2 separate regions of the Homo sapiens genome follow, and region 2 is linked to region 1. A link means that fine-mapping ties the variant in region 1 to the expression of a gene that starts in the linked region. Tissue or cell type: sigmoid colon. Region 1 holds a variant in brackets; the other region holds the start of a gene. All regions are shown on one strand. Distances are from middle to middle.

Region 1 (4,491 bases):
GTGCAGTGGTGCAATCTCAGCTCACTGCAACCTCTGCCTCTCGGGTTCACGCCATTCTCCTGCCTCGGCCTCCCAAGTAGCTGGGACTACAGGTGCCCGCCACCACGCCCGTCCACTTTTTTGTATTTTTAGTAGAGATGGGGTTTCACTGTGTTAGCCAGGATGGTCTCCATCTCCTGACCTCATGATCCACCCGCCTCGGCCTCCCAAGGTGCTGAGATTACAGGTGTGAGCCACTGCACCCGGCCCAAGTCTTGTATTTTTTAACCTGCTGCCTAGTTTCGTTTCTTTTCTTTCTTTTTTTTTTTTTTTGAGACAGAGTCTCGCTCTGTTGCCAGGCTGGAGTGCTGTGGCGTGATCTCGGCTCACCGCAACCTCCACCTCTCTGGTTCAAGCAATTCCCCTGCCTCAGCCTCCTGAGTAACTGGGATTACAGGTGCATGCCACCACGCCCAGCTAATTTTTTTGTATTTTTAGTAGAGACGGGGTTTCACCATGTTGGCCAGACTGGTCTCAAACTCCTGACCTCAGGCAATCCACCTGCCTCGGCCTCCCAAAGTGCTGGGATTACAGGCGTAAGCCACTGCGACTGGCCCTAGTTTTTATAAGAAGAATGCATGATAATTTATTCCACAAATCCCCTAAGGGACATTTATGTTTCCAATTGTTTACTACTGCAAGAACAGTACTGCATTGAACATCCCGATACATAAGTCTTTAGGAAACTCATACTCTTATTTCTGAATGAGAGTGTCATCAGATGGGACTGCTGGGTTGGAGGATATACTTTTATAATTTTACAACTTGTTATCTTACAACTGGGATACCAGTACACTTCCTGTAGACTAATATACTGATTGTTTTCTGCTTATGTGGACATATGACTATAAATAAATATTGGGAAACCTCTACCAGCTTTTACTTTGTTTCACAAGACCATTAGTCATAATTACAATATTATTTTTATTTGTAGCTGCCACCAATGCCAAGAGATTACAGCCCAGAGCTGGCAGAACTGATAAGAACAATGCTGAGCAAAAGGCCTGAAGAAAGGCCGTCTGTGAGGAGCATCCTGAGGCAGCCTTATATAAAGCGGCAAATCTCCTTCTTTTTGGAGGCCACAAAGATGTAAGATACTTCCCTTGCAAATAGCTGGGCTAAATAGATGGGGTGAAAGAGGGTGGCTTCTGTAATATTCATATGCAAGAATTAATGGTGAGTTTTCTTAAAAACAAGAAATAAAATGGCATGATTACATATGTAGAGGAGGCAAAATTCTACCCTCTTAGGGTTTCTTGGCTGAGCTTGAGAATTAAACTTATAATTTAACAGGAGAAAAGCATGTAGATTTCTTTAATACCTGAATAAGTTTTATGTGACACAGGAGCCCTCATAAGGAAATGAAGACCTAACTTCTACTAAAAATACAAAGAAGTGGCAAAACCTAAATGCTTTTTGCTTGATTGAACAAAGAGAGGCAATTGTGGAAAAGTAAACTAGGTGGAGAGGCTAAAGGAAGATAAGAATTATTTTAATAAGGTCTGTTTATAGAATTCTCTCAGTTTCAGCTTTCCATTCTTGATAATAAGAATGTTACTTTCCTTCTGGTACAGGGAGGACGTATTTCATATGGGAGTTTTATCTTCTGCTTTCTGGAAGAAAAAGGGAAGATCAGAGTGCCCTTCTTGCACTTACTTTTTTTTGTTTGTTTTTTTTTGAGATGGAGTCTTGCTGTGTCACCCAGGCTGGAGTGCAGTGGCATGATCTCAGCTCACTGCAACCTCCGCCTCCCGGGTTCAAGCAATTCTCCTGCCTCAGCCTCCCCAGTAGCTGGGATTACAGGCACCCGCCACCGTGCCCGGCTAATTTTTGTAGTTTTAGTAGAGACAGGGTTTCCCCATGTTGGCCAGGCTGGTCTTGAACTCCCGACCTCGTG[G/A]TCCGCCCACCTCGGCCTCCCAAAGCTTGCACTTACTTTTTAAAGAACCTTAGCCCAAAATAATCTTTATGCCAAAGTAGCATATTTTGGCGTGGCATATTCTCCCAGTCTTCAAATACATGTTGAAATTTGCTTAATTGCTAAAATCAGAAATTTGGAGAACCACTGTCACATTCCTCAGAGGGTTCTAAGACATATAGTGTAAATTTTTTTTTAAAGGACATATGCACTACTCTGGGCTCACTGCCTATGAGTTAGTCCTGTTCTCAAGGAGCAGCCAAATAATAATAAAAAAAAAGAGGGCATATGTTTTAGAAATCATATAATTAGAGATTATCTGAGAAACCTATACATCTTACTGTGTAAGATAGTAATATTTAAAAAGTAGTGCTCACATTTCTGAGAGCTTGCATAAAGTTCCCTCTTCATTCACATTAACTTCCCAAGAGAATTCCTTGCTTTGGCTTGCAGATCCTACCTTTACTAAACAGGTGTTCCAGGATCTAAGACTTAGGGCTGGACAAAACTATTACAATCTGTTTGGCTTCTCCTCTTGCCTTGTGGCATGTTAAATTTGGAAAGAGAGGAGGCAGTGCTAGAGATGCCTCAGGGAATAAAGAAGAACCATCTTTTTGTGTACATAATTTCCCACCAAGCAGACCTTTGGCCTTCCAGTGTACTGATCTCCATGCTCCTCTTGAATTCTCCAGAGGTTTAGCCCAGTTTTAGAAATGACATACTAAAATAGTTGGGGATGTTATTCCTGTATGCATTTATTCTATAAGCAGGACTAAGTGTACCAATCAGTTTTACTCTCAAAGTTAGCCAAGCAGTTGTGGTATTATTACAGACATGTAAAATTTGAAAATGAAAATTAACCTGATACTCCCGTATGTGAGGCAATCTCCCATAGAATTTTTATTTTGGAATAATTTTGTATAAACAGAAAAGTTGGAAAGATAGAGTGGAGAGTTCCTGTATACCCCTCATCTAGTTTCTTCTGTGATTACCAGATTACATACCCTAATGCATTTGTCAAAACTAAGAAACCAACATCGAAATATTACTATTGACTTGGCCATGCATGGTGGCTCACGCCTGTAATCCCAGCACTTTGGGAGGCCGAGGCTGGCAGATCACCTGAGGTCAGGAGTTTAAGACCAGCCTGGCCAACATGGCAAAACCCCGTCTCTACTAAAAAAAAAATACAAAAAAATTAGCCGGGCGTGGTGGCGTGCACCTGTAGTCCCAGCTACTCGGGAGGCTGAGGCACAAGAATCACTTGAACCTGGGCAGCGGAGGTTGCAGTGAGCTGAGATCACGCCACTACACTCTAGCCTGGATGACAGAGTGAAACTCTGTCTCAATTTTTTAAAAAAAGAAAGAAAAATATTACTATTGACTAAATTCCAGACTTTCTTTGGCTTTCACCAGTTTTTTTCTCTAATGTCTCTTTTCTGTTCCAGGATCCAATCCAGGATATAGTACATCTAATCAGGGGTCTGTGATTGTTTCTCACTTTGTTTATTTTTTATGACCTTGATTGTTTCAAAGACTACTGGTGAGGTGTTTTGTAGGATGCCCCTTAGATTTTTAGAAAACTATTCTCTATAAATGGTGCAGTTCTGTAAGGGAATTCATTGTATACACACACTCCCACATATACCTAAAAACCCTTAATCTTCAGTATATTGATAATAACTCTTTCTTTTCTTCTTTATAAAGAAAAACCTCCAAAAATAACATTAAAAATGGTGACTCTCAATCCAAGCCTTTTGCTACAGTGGTTTCTGGAGAGGCAGAATCAAATCATGAAGTAATCCACCCCCAACCACTCTCTTCTGAGGGCTCCCAGACATATATAATGGTACGTTTCTTTTTAAAGGGTATGTGTTTTAGAAACTGCACTTAGAAAAATGGGCCATCTAAGCAAATTATTTTGTGTGAAATGATTATGCTTTACTAGAGATTCTGTTGTACAATTAATTCCTTACTGTAAAGAAAGAATACTGGTTAAGGTGATTGATTTAGCTTTATCCAAATTGGGCTGTCAAATTGTTCACAAAGTCAGTGCTGTAATAACTTTAAGAATTTTTTAGGTGAAATTTATATAACAAAATTAACCATTTTAAAGTAAACAGTTAAGGCTGAGCGCGGTGGCTCATGCCTGCAATCCCAGCACTCTGGGAGGCCGAGGCTGGCAGATCACCTGAGGTCAGGAGTTCAAGACCAGCCTGGCCAACATGGTGAACCCTCATCTCTACTAAAAATACAAAAATTAGCTGGCTGTGGTGGCATGTACCTGTAGTCATAGCTACTCAGGAGGCTGAGGGAGGAGAATCGCTTGAACCTGGGAGGTGGAGGTTGCAGTGAGCCAAGACTGCACTACTGCACTCCAGCCTGGGTGACAGAATGAGACACTGTCTCAAAAATAAAAATAAAAATAAATAAAATAAAATAAATAAATAAAGTGATCAATTAAATGTGGCCAGTACATTCACAGTGTAGTGCAACCGTCACTTCTATGTAGTTCCAAAACATTTTCATCACCCCAA
Region 2 (4,491 bases), 450 kb after region 1:
CCTCTGTAACAACTCTGGTAGGGATCTGGAGAAGGATTGGGTAGCTGATGGGACTGCCACGTGCTCAGCATGGGGATGGGGCCCAAAAACTGGTCTGGCAAGTACAGGACTTCACTGCAAGGCTGTTTGAAGTGCACCTCCAGGCCGGGCGCAGTGGCTCACGCCTGTAATCCAAACACTTGGGCCCAGGCGGGCGGATCACCCGAGGTCAGGAGTTTAAGACCAGCTTGGTCAACAGGGTGAAACCCCGTCTCTACAAAAACACAAAAATTAGCCGGCATGATGGCGGGTGCGTATAATCCCAGCTATTCAGGAGGCTGAGGCTGGAGAATCGCTTGAACCCGGGAGGTGGAGGTTGCAGTGAGCCGAGATCGCGCCATTGCACTCCAGCCTGGGCGACAGAGCGAGACTCCGTCTCAAAAATAATAAAATAAAGTGCACCTCCCTTCTTTCCCCCTGGCCAAGGCTCAGCAACCAGACTCCTGGGAGACCCCATTCCCCACCCTCGTCCACTCGCCCTCCGCGCCTTTTCGAGGTCCCGCTGCCCGCGCTGGCCCCGCAACCCCTCCGCCTCACCGACGTACCGGTTCCACCGAGCAGTGCGGGGATGCATCAGCCCCGTCTCTAGGGAGGGACGCTAGGCCGTTGCTAAGGGGCGGGGCCATCCGGCACCGCAGGGCGGGAGCTTCCGTCCGCGAACCTCCCCAGCCTGAACCCTTACCTACCCACCAACTCCAGGTCTCGGTTACTTCCGCCCAGGACAGTGGGACTGGGATGTTCCAGCATATGCCCCGATCGGCAGGATTAGGGCCGACCAGGGAGCGTCACTCTTCTAGGCTCCATTACCCACCCATCTTCCCTCCTGTGCCCTTTTAGAGTAAGCAGCGAAACAGCTAAATGCAGCGTGAGAACTTTGATTAAATCCTGATTTAAATACATATACATATGTAAATAATTTGGGGAGGAATAATTGAAGAAATTTACGAACTGGAAGTTGGCATTTAAGCCACAGCTGCGGGACAGCTGGTCAGGGCACTGAGGAAAAGGTGGGTTCTGGTTCTCCTGGGGCTTGGCTCACAAAGCCACACCCACCCATTGCACGGTGACTCCACTCAGGCCGCCGCTTCCGCTGGGCAGCGGATGCGCCCGACACCCCTCGGCTCGGGCGCCCACCCTCTGATGCCCCTCATCTGCTCTCAGCACCTGGCATGGGTTCAGGTTTTGATCTTCCTGCCCTATTCTGAATATTGAATTATTGTTAATTTTCTTAGATGTGATAATGCTACTGTGGTTGTATCAGACTGTCCTTAGTTGACGTGGCCTGAAGTGTTTGAAGAAACACGTCAGAATGTCCGCTACAATTTCCTTTCAAATGGTTCAGCAAAAATTATACATATAGGTAAGCATAGCTAGATAAAAAGACAAAGAGGAGATAAAGCAAAAGTGCTGCAATATAACAATTAGGGAATCTGAAGGTCACAGATGTCCATGTACTAGTCTTCCAATTTTTTCTGTAAGGGAAAGAAGTGGTTTACAAACCAAAAGAACCAAAAGAAAAACATCACCCCATCTGTACCTGAGAACCCCTGCCCACAGCCTTCTCAAAACTGGCCCCATTTCACAGATGGGGAAACAGACTTGCTGAGACGGTTAGTACTAGGGGAGGTCATAGGCCCTGATGTTGAATTTTACTTGGCATTTTAGTCGTGCTGGCTTGGTGCCAGGCCTGTTGCTGGGCACTAAGTGTCTGGAACTGAACTGGACCCTATCCCCACCATAAAGTGTATTGAGTGGGAAAGATGGAGAGGCCAGGCCATGAGGAACCTAGAGGCAGGGTGTAATCTATGCCTGGAGACAGTGGTTCAGCCCTTGCACAGGCTTCTGCTTCCTCTGTCTAGAACCTGTCTCCATCCACTCCTGCATCTGGCGGACTCCTACTCACCCTTCAAGACCTGATGGTGGTGCAACCTTTCCTGAATCCAAACTGTGGTTTTATTTTTCTTGTTGGCATTCACACAGGTACTCAGTGATCACTGCAGAAGGAAGAAAGGACTGTGAGGGGAACTGGAGGCAAGGTGTCCACAGCTCTTAGAAGGGACAAGGACTCCATAGCCCTGTTTAGGGCAGTCTGGCTGCTCAATGGGTCTGCGTATAGGTTGGGTACCCCCCTTGGCCTGTAGAGAGGCACCTGCTTCCCTGCTTTTGCCTGGCACTTCCCACACTAGGTACAGCTGTCCAAAAAGCTGCAGCATCTATCCGGGTTGCCATGGCAACATCAGCCTATGGTGGGATGTCAGGGATGAGAGGGGCAGAATGCTAATCCTGGAAAGTTGCCAAGCAACACAGTGGGCTGGTGACATCACAGGGGCTGTGGCTGCTGGACAGATGGACAGGCCACAGCTGAAAGGGTCCACTCTCAGGAGGCCCAGCTCACAGAACCACTCACTGCTTACCATGTGATGGTCACTGCTGTTTCTCCCAACTGGAGAATGGACTTGAGGGGTGGGGGTCGGGGGTGCTGCTTTTACCAGCAGCCCTGCCAGCTCCACTTCGCCCCTCTTCAAGGGCGGGCTGTGGATATGACTGCCTCCCTCCTCCCTGGAAGGACACCGTGAGTCAGTCCCTGTTCTCCTGGGTCTCAGGGGCTACCCTCTAATGTGCTGTCTTCTCCCATGGCTGCGCAAGGGTTCAGGCTTTGGTCTTCCTGCCCTGTCCTGAAGGCCACCATACTTACCTTGCTCCCTGGGAAAGGAGCAGGGGGCTGAGCCATGACCCACTGGACTCCTGCCCCTCTTGTGATGGGAGGGCCATCTTTTGCCCTGAATAAGCTGGAAGAGAGGTCAGCCTTACCCTTGTTGAAATGGGAGGACTAGGTTTCTACAAGAGTTGGGGAGTCACTGCCCATCTCTTACTCAGATCCCCCTTGCTGAGGACTCTGGTGGCCTGGAAGCTGGGGGATTGGGGCAGATGGGCTGCTTAGGATGCCCTGGCCCAGGGCCATGCCTTTCCAGCATGGAGTCTGAGGTCATGGCAAGTCTGCACACCCCCTCCCCTGTGTCTCCTTGCTGGCTGAGATGGGAGCAATGCTTCACTGGCTGCAGAGATGAAAGCCCCTTGTGAATGGGCAGCAGAATGGGCCCTTCATGTGGCTGGCCAGCCAGAACGGAAGGTGACAGGCATCCAGACTGAGTGGCTGAGCTACCCGCTCCCCACCTGTCCCCAGCCTCCCTCTTGGGCCCCCAGGATCTTCCTCTGATTTTCTAGGCCTGGAGCTCTGAGCTATGCCACAAGAAAGTGAGTTGCAGGCATCGGGGGCGGGGGGTGTCAGAGAAGGGAATGGGTGAGGTCTACGATTCACTGCCTCCCCAGGCCTCCCCGACATAAGCCTCCCTGCCATTGCTCAGCTGCCCTCAGCAGTTCTGACCAGCATAATCATTTCTTTGATGAATAAAAATGGAGAAAATTTAATTCTCCTTTGATCCACATGATCACCTTGACAGACAAGACCTTGAAAGCCCAGAGCTCAAGCAAGGAGTAGAACAGAGTTTCTCCGGGGCTGGTGGACTGAAGACCACTGGCCCATGAACAGACAATCTTCATCCATCACAGCCCCCACCTAATCCCCTGCCCACCTTTACTCCTGTGCAGCCTCCCTGCCGGAGCCTCTTCCCTCTTTGTTTTTCTATGATCTTCCATGCCATCTTGGGCTACTTCTCAGGACACACTCCCTGAGTGCCTTGGCCAACAGAACACACACTCTCCTCAGGGCCCCAGAGGACCATGGTCAGTACCACTTGGTAGATGACTCACTCCCTACCATGTGATGGTCACTGCTGTTTCTCCCAACTGGAGGGTGGACTTGATGGATGGGGTCAGGGGGTGCTGGGGCAGAGGCACAGCTTTTCTCAGCAGCCCTGCCCATGCGTCAGTCCAGGAAAGACCCATAGAAATGACTGGAAGATAGAGCAACCCACATCGGGGCCATCACCTCAAAGATAGTGGCTGTTGACACCAGCCCAGTTGCACATGACCCCACATGATCCCACCCTCACCTCCTCTCCCCCAGCCTATTTTTCTCTGACCTCCATCTGAGGGTGCAGGATGCTGAGGCTCTGCGCTCCAGGAGCAGCGGCCCAAGGGGGGGATGCCTGTTGGTCCCCACCTTCCTGGGCCAAAGCGCCAGATGGCAGGCTCTGAGACAAAGACATCTTCCACAGGACATTTCCCAGGGGGGCTCCAGGAGCTGCACAGGAAACTGTTTATTATAATTAGGCTCTGAGCACCTCTGATTTTTCCTCAGTCCCAAGGAGTTTGGTGAGCGTCAGCTGGAGTAATATCTTGGCAGAGTGGGTGACTTCATCAACTTGGCCCTGTGACCCACCAAGTGCCCCCACTCCCACCTTCCAGGGAGCCTGGGTTTGCTGAGGCTTAGCTGAGCCCTCCCATCCACTCATCCCCCAAGGCTGGCCACTTTGGGGACCAGACTGCCAG

The links. PIP is the estimated chance that this variant, and not a neighbour inherited with it, causes the effect.
Region 2: DNAH1 starts here. The variant in region 1 is fine-mapped to the expression of DNAH1 in sigmoid colon (GTEx, PIP 0.94).

The regions. Positions count from the first base shown.
Region 1 is chr3:52,760,107-52,764,597 of GRCh38, reverse strand. NEK4 (NIMA related kinase 4) reads left to right here. Exons shown (of 16, transcript NM_003157.6): 5 at 974-1,128; 6 at 3,662-3,803. Among named protein-coding and RNA genes, the nearest start is that of NEK4, 8.6 kb to the left of the region's middle. The variant G/A (reference allele first, on the strand shown) is at 1,937.
Region 2 is chr3:52,313,997-52,318,487 of GRCh38, reverse strand. It overlaps DNAH1 (dynein axonemal heavy chain 1), which reads right to left and starts at 2,169. Exons shown (of 78, transcript NM_015512.5): 1 at 1,943-2,169. RefSeq lists a silencer at 549-778 and enhancers at 717-1,655, 4,472-4,491.